Linked DNA regions of Homo sapiens: region 2 is linked to region 1. The links come from fine-mapping of genetic effects on gene expression. A gene starts in region 1. The other region holds a variant in brackets. All regions are shown on one strand. Distances are between the middles of the regions.

Region 1 (4,393 bases):
ATTGAAGAAATATGTATTGGACCTATTCATTGCATGAGGCACTTTCTAGACACTGGGGGTGAAATGTTGGCCAAAACAGATAAGGTCTCTGTTCTTATGAAGCTCACATTCATGTGATGAGAGGCTGACAATAATCAAGTAAACAAATAAATGATCAAGGTGACTTCAGATACTAATAGATGAGAGGGCGATGTGACAGATAGGGTCTGGGGAGCCACCTTTGAATTTGTGCTGAATTCTATCTGAAGATGCCTTCACTAAGAGAGAGGTGCTGTCTCCATGGCCTTTGAGGCCCTCCCCTCCAGTGGTGAGATTTTAACAATCTCCCCATCTGACAGGTTCCCATGCAGGAATGAAAGACATGGAAGGGAAGAGGGGGGCCAGCTCCCTGAGTCCTGTGTCCACCAGCTGCTGCTAAATACCTCTGAGAAACTCTGCTTCTATCTAAGGGGACCTACTTCTCTCGGGAATCTCAATACTTGGAACAAGAACCTCCTAGACGGACCCTTTGGCATAATGAATTGGACCAACTGTAGGTTCCAGGACTAGAGAGCCAGCAATGCCTCCATGAACAATCTCACCCAATTACTCTGCTCAGGTAAGACCAACTGAAAACTAGAACAATACAAATGGTGGTTATTCCTGTCTTCTGTTTCTTTGTTTGTTTTTGTGACAGGGTCTTGCTCTGTCACCCAGGCTAGAGTACAATGGTGTGATCATGGCTCACTGCAGCCTCGACTTCCCTAGCTTAAGTGATTCTCCTATCTCAGCCTCTCAAGGAGCTGGGACTACAGGCATGCAGTAGCACACCCAGCTAATTTTCGGATTTTTTTTTTTTAAAGTAGAGACAAGGTCTAGCTATATTGCCCAGGCTGGTCTCAAACTCTTGAGCTCAGGCGGTCCTCCTGCCTTGACTTCCCAAAGTGCTGAGATTATAGGCGTGAGCCACTGGGCCTGGCTCGTTATTACTGTTGAATAATAGTCTGATCACTGAGTTCTTAAACAACTCCATGAGGTAGGCATTCATATTCTGTCTGTTTCACAGATGAGGCTCAGAAAAGCTAAGTGTTTGTCCTAAGATCACAGTTAGGAAGTGTCTGAGACCCAGGTCACTGTGAGGGAAGAGAGAGACCCTCTCATATTGTTTTATATTGTTTTATACTCAGTACCTGTTTTAAGGAAAAACAACAAGGAAGTAAAACCAAAGACAGGCAGTCCGGCGCCAGGCCCGAAACCAGGCCTGGGCCTGCCTGGCCTAAACCCAGTAGTTAAAAATCAACTCATAACTTAGAAACTGATGTTATTCATAGATTCCAGACATTGTATAGAAGAACATTGTGAAACTCCCTGCCCTGTTCTGTTTCTCTCTGACCACCGGTGCATGCAGCCCCTGTCACATACCGCCTGCTTGCTCAAATCAATCATGACCCTTTCATGTGAAATCTTTAGTATTGTGAGCCCTTAAAAGGGACGGAAATTGTGCATTCGGGGAGCTCGGATTTTAAGGCAGTAGCCTGCTGATGCTCCCAGCTGAATAAAGCCCTTCCTTCTACAATTTGGTGTCTGAGGGGTTTTGTCTGCGGCTCGTCCTGCTACATTTCTTGGTTCCCTGACCAGGAAACGAGGTAACTGATGGACAGCCGAGGCAGCCCCTTAGGCGGCTTAGGCCTCCCCTGTGGAGCATCCCTGAGGCGGACTCCGGCCAGCCCGAGTGACGCGATCCAAAGAGCACTCCCGGGTAGGAAATTGCCCCGGTGGAATGCCTCACCAGAGCAGCGTGTAGCAGTTCCCTGTGGAGGATTAACACAGTGGCTGAACACCGGGAAGGAACTGGCACTTGGAGTCCGGACATCTGAAACTTGGTAAGACTAGTCTTTGGAACTTGCCCCACTCCATCTAGGTGGAAGTGTGGCCTGATCACCCACGACATGCCTGCATTGGCACTTCTGTTCTGGTTTTGACTTGACTTAGATTGTGTGATACTTTGGTTTTGGTTTTGGTTTTGACCTGGCTTGGATTTCTGGATACTCTGATTTTGGTTTTGATTTTGGTTTGGTGTAAACTGCAAGAGTGTGTATGCCCTTTTTACCTGTTTTTTTGTTTGTGGCATGTGTGTGGTGTGGGTGTGGTGTTTTGTCTCGAAGAAGCATGGGTCAGGTACAAATAAGCCCACCCCACTAGGAACTATGTTAAAAAAAAATTCAAGAAAGAATTTAAGGGAGATTACAGTGTTACTGTGACACCAGGAAAACTTAGAACTTTGTGTGAAATAGACTGGCCAGCATTAGAGGTGGGTTGGCCATCAGAAGGAAGCCTGGACAGGTCCCTTGTTTCAAAGGTATGACACAAGGTAACCCGTAAGCCAAGGCACCCAGACCAGTTTCCATACATAGAAAGTTACAGCTGCTTTTATACCCCCTTGCCCCGCCAACGTAGTTAAGAGAACAGCAGCATAAGCGGCTGGCAGAGGCAAGGAAAGACCAGTAGAGAGAAAAAAAGGCCATCTATACCAATTCTAAGTTAATTTAGACTAAACAAGGTCTTAATAGCAAAGGATAATTGAAATCCCAAACTTACAAGGTTTTCAACAAAAGTGAAGTTTGCTTAAAGTTAACAGTGTAACATGTATTATGGTAACTTCTAATCTTGTGGCCTTAGACAGTCTAGTCCAAAGGCATAAAGAAAGTTTGCTTTAAAAAAAAAAAAAAGGAATGGTTATCTTCAAAAAAAAAAAAAAGTGGGGGGAGACAGAATTTATGTAAAAAGAGTGTTATATGGTAAATTCTTGTCCTGAAATAAACTAACTGGTGTTTAAAGAAAAAAAATGTTTGTAATAAGTCAGAAAGTTGAGACACATTGAAGAATTGTCGGCAAAAGTCGTGAAAGAAAAAATGTTATAAAAAAATTTATGCAAAAAATGTTGTATAATTTAAAAGTAATAAGGCCTCCTGAGTACTATTAAAAAAACAGTTTATGTGCAAGGTGTATAAGAAAAGTAAAACATACCTTTGGTAAAAAGATTATAAAGGGGCATAAGAATGTGGATTTTTACCTACATTAAAAGGTTAAAAACAATTATTGTTTTAAAAGTTTAAGCAAGTTTTAAAACGTTAATTATAAAGAAAATTCTGTGTGTAAACATATTAGCTAAAGTTAAAAAGGTATCATCCAGTTTTTCTGTGAACTGGACATTAAAGTAAAAAATGCCACAGGTTTTTCTTAAAGCATCAACCTGCTCTTTAACAAAAATTATAAAAGGTTAAAAAGAGTCTATAAAATCTTACCTTATGGTCAAACATGAAAAATTGGATAAATATGTCTACAAGGTTTTATTAAAATTCAGTTTAAAATTAATAACACACTAATATAAAGGTAAAATTTAGCTTATCTGGTATAAAAATCATACAAGAAACATTATTAAATATAAAATGGTGTTTAGCTTTCTTTGGTCTAAAAACTAATAAAAATTGGTGCTAAAGGAAACATTCATTTTACTAGAGGATCATAAAAGTTAAAGACTTAAAACAAACTTTGGCAATTAAGACAGCACGCCAAGATGCAAGTGCCTGGCTGAAATGGATCAAATATTCCATCTGCACTTTAAACAAATGCAATTGTTATGCTTGTGCACATGGCAGGCCAGAGGCCCTGATTGTCCCCCTTCCACTAAGGTGGTCCTCCAGTTGACCAGGCATGGGCTGCAGGGTAGCTATTTTCCAGGTTTCTACAGCTTGGAGTAATAAGTCATGCCAAGCTCTCTCTGCTATATCCCAAAGTCCCTGCGGGTCAGCCCCTGAGGGCCGTCCAGCTTCCGTCTCCCAACACTAAGTTCACTTCATGTCTCTCATGGCAGGGAGGAGACTTAGCATTCCTTGGAGACCTGAAGGGATGCAGTGAGCTTAAGAATTTTCAAGAGCTTATCAGTCAGTCAGCCCTTGTTCATCCCCGAGCGGATGTGTGATGGTATTGTCGTGGACCTTTATTGGGCACTCTGCCGAATAACTAGAGTGGCACTTGTGCTTTAGCCTATTTGGCTATCCCTTTCACCCTGGCATTTCATCAACCAGAGGAAGGAAAAAAAAAATAATAAGACATCGTAAAGCGAGAGAAGCCCCTTATGGGTCTTTCAACTCTCACATCTATTTAGATGCAATCGAAGCCCCGCAAGGAACACCAGATCAATTTAAAGTCCGAAATCAAATAGCTACAGGATTTAAGTCAATATTTTGGTAGATGACAGTCAATAAAAATGTAGATTAGATAAACTGCATCTATTACACCCAACAGCAATGAGCTTTTCATGAGTTGAAAAAAAGAAAAAACCCATGTCGGCCCCAGCCCTGGGGCTACCTGACCTGACAAAACCTTTTACACTCTATGTGTCAGAAAGAGA
Region 2 (4,393 bases), 30 kb after region 1:
ATCAAAAATTCTTACAATGAGATATAAGAAAAATGTAGTCCAGAGGGGATAAATGCCTCAGATTTTTAGGTCATTGAAGTTCAAGTCAAGTGGATTTTCTACTAAACTCTGGTGCATCTTATAAAGATAGAAGCATATTGCTGCAACGCAGTCCTAGCAAGAGTGTGCACAGAAGTGTAGCTTAATTAAAGGAATCATTATCTCTGATACATGATAAAAATGCCGCATCATTGTCCTTAATCAACTGAAGATCTCTAAAATGACACTGAAATATGTGTGTTCAAAGATCTTTAACAATCCTATGATCTTGTGAATCTTGGAGTAGCATCATGGAAGGTTCTGGTCCAAGAGTGGTCCACACAGAGGCTAGAGCTGTATGAATGTTACGTGACATTGGATGCTGCCATATCTACACTGGGTTCCTGTGAATGGATAATAGAAATAGCAGGCCAAGCATCTTGGCATGATCCCCACAGTTAGCTGTAGCTTGAATTGATTACTTAGTGTCCATGGCTGAGTCAGGAGCAGAGCGAAGTGTGTATTGACACTGGCAGGGCAAACCTAGAGCAGGTGGAGAGCCCAGTTAGGAAATCACTCCACATGGCTCCCAGTGTTCTGCTTTCCTCAAATCTTGAGTAATAAAGAGGCTTCATGTTTTTAACATGAACTATGCAAAGGGAAGCAAACTGCAGCAATAGACGTAGTTCCACAGTGAGCTGTGATACATCAACGGGTCATAAAACACTGAAAGGGACTCAGCCCAAGGGGTGGCTTTCTGACTTGCATTTAGAGAATAAAAATGTTAATAGCGGCTGGGCGCTGTGGCTCATGTCTGTAATCCCAGTACTTTGGGAGGCTGAGGCGGGTGAAGCACGATGTCAGGAGTTTGAGACCAGCTCCTGACCAGCATGATGAAACCCTGTCTCTACTAAAAATACAAAAATTAGCCAGGTGTGGTGGCACTCACCTGTAATGTCAGCTACTCAGGAGGCTGAGGCAGGAGAATCGCTTGAACCCAGGAGGCGGAGGTTGCAGCGGGCCGAGGTCGCACCATGGCACTCCAGCCTGGGCAACAGAGAGAGACTCCGTCTCAAAAAAAAAAAAAAAGTTAATAGCTACCATCTGTTGTTCACTACAGAAAGGACATTCTGTTAAGTGCTTCACTTACTTACTTATATTATTTAACCTTAAACAACCTTATGAGATTTAAAAAATATCAGATATTTATTATTAACCCAATTTTACAGATGAAAAAACTGACAATCAGAGAGGTTAAGTAACTTTTCCCAAGTCACCCAGTTGCCAAGTAGTGGAACCAGGATTGAAACCTGACTATATCTAACTCAGAAGCTATTACTCAAATTGCACCAGGCAATTTGTTCACAGCAAGGGACTGACATCATAGAGGCCTACAAATCTCTGTTTTCTTTGTCTGTTTTATATCTGGGTCATTTTATCCTCCTCCCATTCTTCTTTCCTCTTAAGTTTCTATTTTGGGATTTTAGGCCCTCCAAAGAGCCTGAAATCAGCCTTCCTTCCCTTCCTGCTGTTATCCCACAAACTGTAACAGCCATTTTTGGTTGGCCTCATTTGATGCTTAATGACAAAGAAGTTGTCCTCAAAAATTTATTCTTATCTATTGCCCAACGTCCCCTACTCACTTAATCTTTGAATACATCACATATAGATTCACAGATGAGCTAGGTTGGAAAGTATCTTTGCTAATATCTAGAGACCTACTTCTTCATTTTACAGAGGAAGAACATGAGTCCCTTTAGGGAAAAACAAATTGTCTGAGCTCATGTGGCACATTGGTGCCAGAGCTGGGACTTGATCTTAGGCCTCTTAACTCCTCCTTTAGTGCTCTTTCCACTCTACCTGGCTGCGTGTGTATTTGTGGTATCTAAATGTGTGCCACAGGGAGAGAAAGAGATTACTAATCTCCTCCATCTACACAAACTGTCTGTACCAGGGAGCTGGGCAGAGCATGGCCAAAAGAGACAGGAGGCATTATCTCTCCCTTCACCCTGCTGTACTCAACGAGCGAGATTGCTATCTTCTGAGTGGCAGTGCTCCCGCCTTGTTGGAAATGTTGAAACACTTG[T/G]GACTGACCTCCAGTGACACAGAAGCTTCTGGGTAGGGGCTGGAGAAGGGTCGGGGAGATATTTCCGTTAGGACATCGCTGAAACACAGACTGGGATCAAACTGTGCTCATAGTCCTAAGGGTAAGTACTGTCTATGGAGACAGGATTTTAAATTAGTTTGAAGTGTGCATTTGTTTGCGAGCATATATGTGTAGAAGTTTTAGAGAGGATTCTCTGTTTATGTGCTGAGATTCCAGGGTGCGGAATTCCACTTGCAATCAGCTTACAGTGAGCCTAAGATTACACTTTATGGACATGAATTTCTTGTGCCTGAGACCTGACATCTGTCTACACTAGCAACAGCAGCCATTGGGGCTTCGGCCAGAAGGTACATGGATTTTGGGTCCAGCAAAAACTGGTTCCAAATCCTCACTCTGCTAAACTTTTGTGAGCCTCAGTTTCCTCATCTGTAAAATGGGCATAAAACACCCACCTTACAGGGTTGCTACATGGATTCAGACAATGTACATTTAGTGCCAGTACAGGCTCCACCAATAACAGCTATGAAGTTTCCTTTTTAAGTCAAATGGGAACCAGATCTCACAGAATATCTTCCCCCATAAACATCCTATAGGAATGTTTTCCCTGAGAAAACACTCTGAGCAGCAAAGGACTAGTATGTGTGGAGGGAAGAGAGCCAGCCTGGGAGTTTTAAAATTTTATGAATAGAGGTCAGAGAATGTGCACCATGAAAGAAAAAAGCCATGCCAGCATCTGGACAAGGAAAAGCTAATAACAGCACAAAACAGAAACAGTCGACCCTTATATAGAGCTTAGTATCTGCCGAGGACTGTTCAAAGAATTTTACGCAGATTGGCCCATTTATTCCTCACACCTAAAGACGTAAGTGCTACTAACAGCCTTATTTTCCAGTTGAAGAAACTGAGGCGCCATGGTGTTAAGGGACTTGACTGAATCAGTGAAAGAAAACTCTTCTGGAGAATTTCATTACAGAAGAGTTAGATCAGGCTTTTCTCCATCTCTCCAACCTGGGAGGGGCTCAGACAATGCGGTGCTGGGAAGCATGTATCAGGTACTCAAGGAAGACTTGTTGATTGGCTGATCCTGCTTCTCGTTCTGTGTGTTGACCTATTTTGTGAGCTTTGGCAAACTACCCAATTAAATGCCTTGAGTAGGATCTGTTACATAATTGGTGGCACACAACGCAAAATGAAAATCTGGGGTCCCTTACTCAAAAATTGTTACGAATTTAAAGATGACAGCCACAAAGCATCAGGCCAATCATGGGGTCCTTGTGAGCACAGGGCCCTACTAGTCTGCACAGGTTACAAGTCCATGAAGCCAGCACTGGCCCTGAATCCTGACAAGGAGGCAGGAATGGTACTGGAAGTTTCCATGGTCTCATGTAGCCCTCCTAATAATTCTGAGCTCCCCCCAACCCCCGGGTTGGAGAGATGGAGAAAGGCCTGGTCTAACTCTTCTGTGCTAAAGTTCTCCAGAAGAGTTTTCTTTCACTGAATCAGTCGAGTCCCTTAACACCTTGCTGCCTCAGTTTCTTCAACTGGAAAATAAGTCAAATAAAGAGACATTTGACTGCCCAATTGAAAGAGGAGAAAAGCGAAACTCTGAGACATTAAGTGGCTCCCCCAAGGTTAAACATTTATTATATGCAAATTGATTTAATAGCAATGTGTACAGAGTGTTACACATTGAAATGCTTTTTCCATCCCTATCCCTGCCGTGTTTTTACGTACTGTGCTATGAATTGCGGAGTGTAATATATGCAGTCCCAGCCAACAAGATGCATAATCTATAGAGGGTGCATAATCTGTAGAAGGTGCCTAGTTTCCCTAAAATTTAGCAGGCCAATCGATGAAACAGAATAATTTGACCCCTTCTAATTCATCTGGAGCTTTGTGGGAACTAGCAAAATGAATCCATGAATACTGCTTGAGTAGCTTGCAACTTTTTGTGTTCTTGCTGATTTAGTCTTGGAACTAAGTTGCATCCACATTGCATTCATCTCTAGTAGTTCCTTGCAAAACTGCTTTCCCCAAAATTACTAATTAGAAACTCTGGATGACTTGCTTTCCTGCTAGAAATTGGCAGTGCTTGCACCTAGAAATAAATGTGACTGGAGGTGTGGTTTATCTAGTTGAGGCTCAAAGTTGCTCTTTCTCACTTTTGAATCTCACTTTTTAGTCCATTTCAGAAAAATTCTAAAATAACAAAATGTCAGAACTGAATTGATTTAGCCCACTCCTCTCATTTTATAGACAGGGGAACTG

What was found. PIP is the estimated chance that this variant, and not a neighbour inherited with it, causes the effect. A credible set is the group of variants that fine-mapping cannot tell apart.
Region 2: its variant is the best candidate, but not a certain one, in a credible set for the expression of RHEX in whole blood (TOPMed, PIP 0.51).

Annotation. Positions count from the first base shown.
Region 1 is chr1:206,051,404-206,055,796 of GRCh38, forward strand. It overlaps RHEX (regulator of hemoglobinization and erythroid cell expansion), which reads left to right and starts at 1,770. Exons shown (of 6, transcript NM_001007544.4): 1 at 1,770-1,862. LOC105372857 (a long non-coding RNA gene) reads right to left here. Exons shown (of 3, transcript XR_922473.3): 3 at 2,040-4,393. RefSeq lists enhancers at 1,166-1,405, 1,826-1,885.
Region 2 is chr1:206,081,426-206,085,818 of GRCh38, forward strand. All of the region lies in intron 1 of RHEX (regulator of hemoglobinization and erythroid cell expansion), which reads left to right. Among named protein-coding and RNA genes, the nearest start is that of RHEX, 30 kb to the left of the region's middle. The variant T/G (reference allele first, on the strand shown) is at 2,105.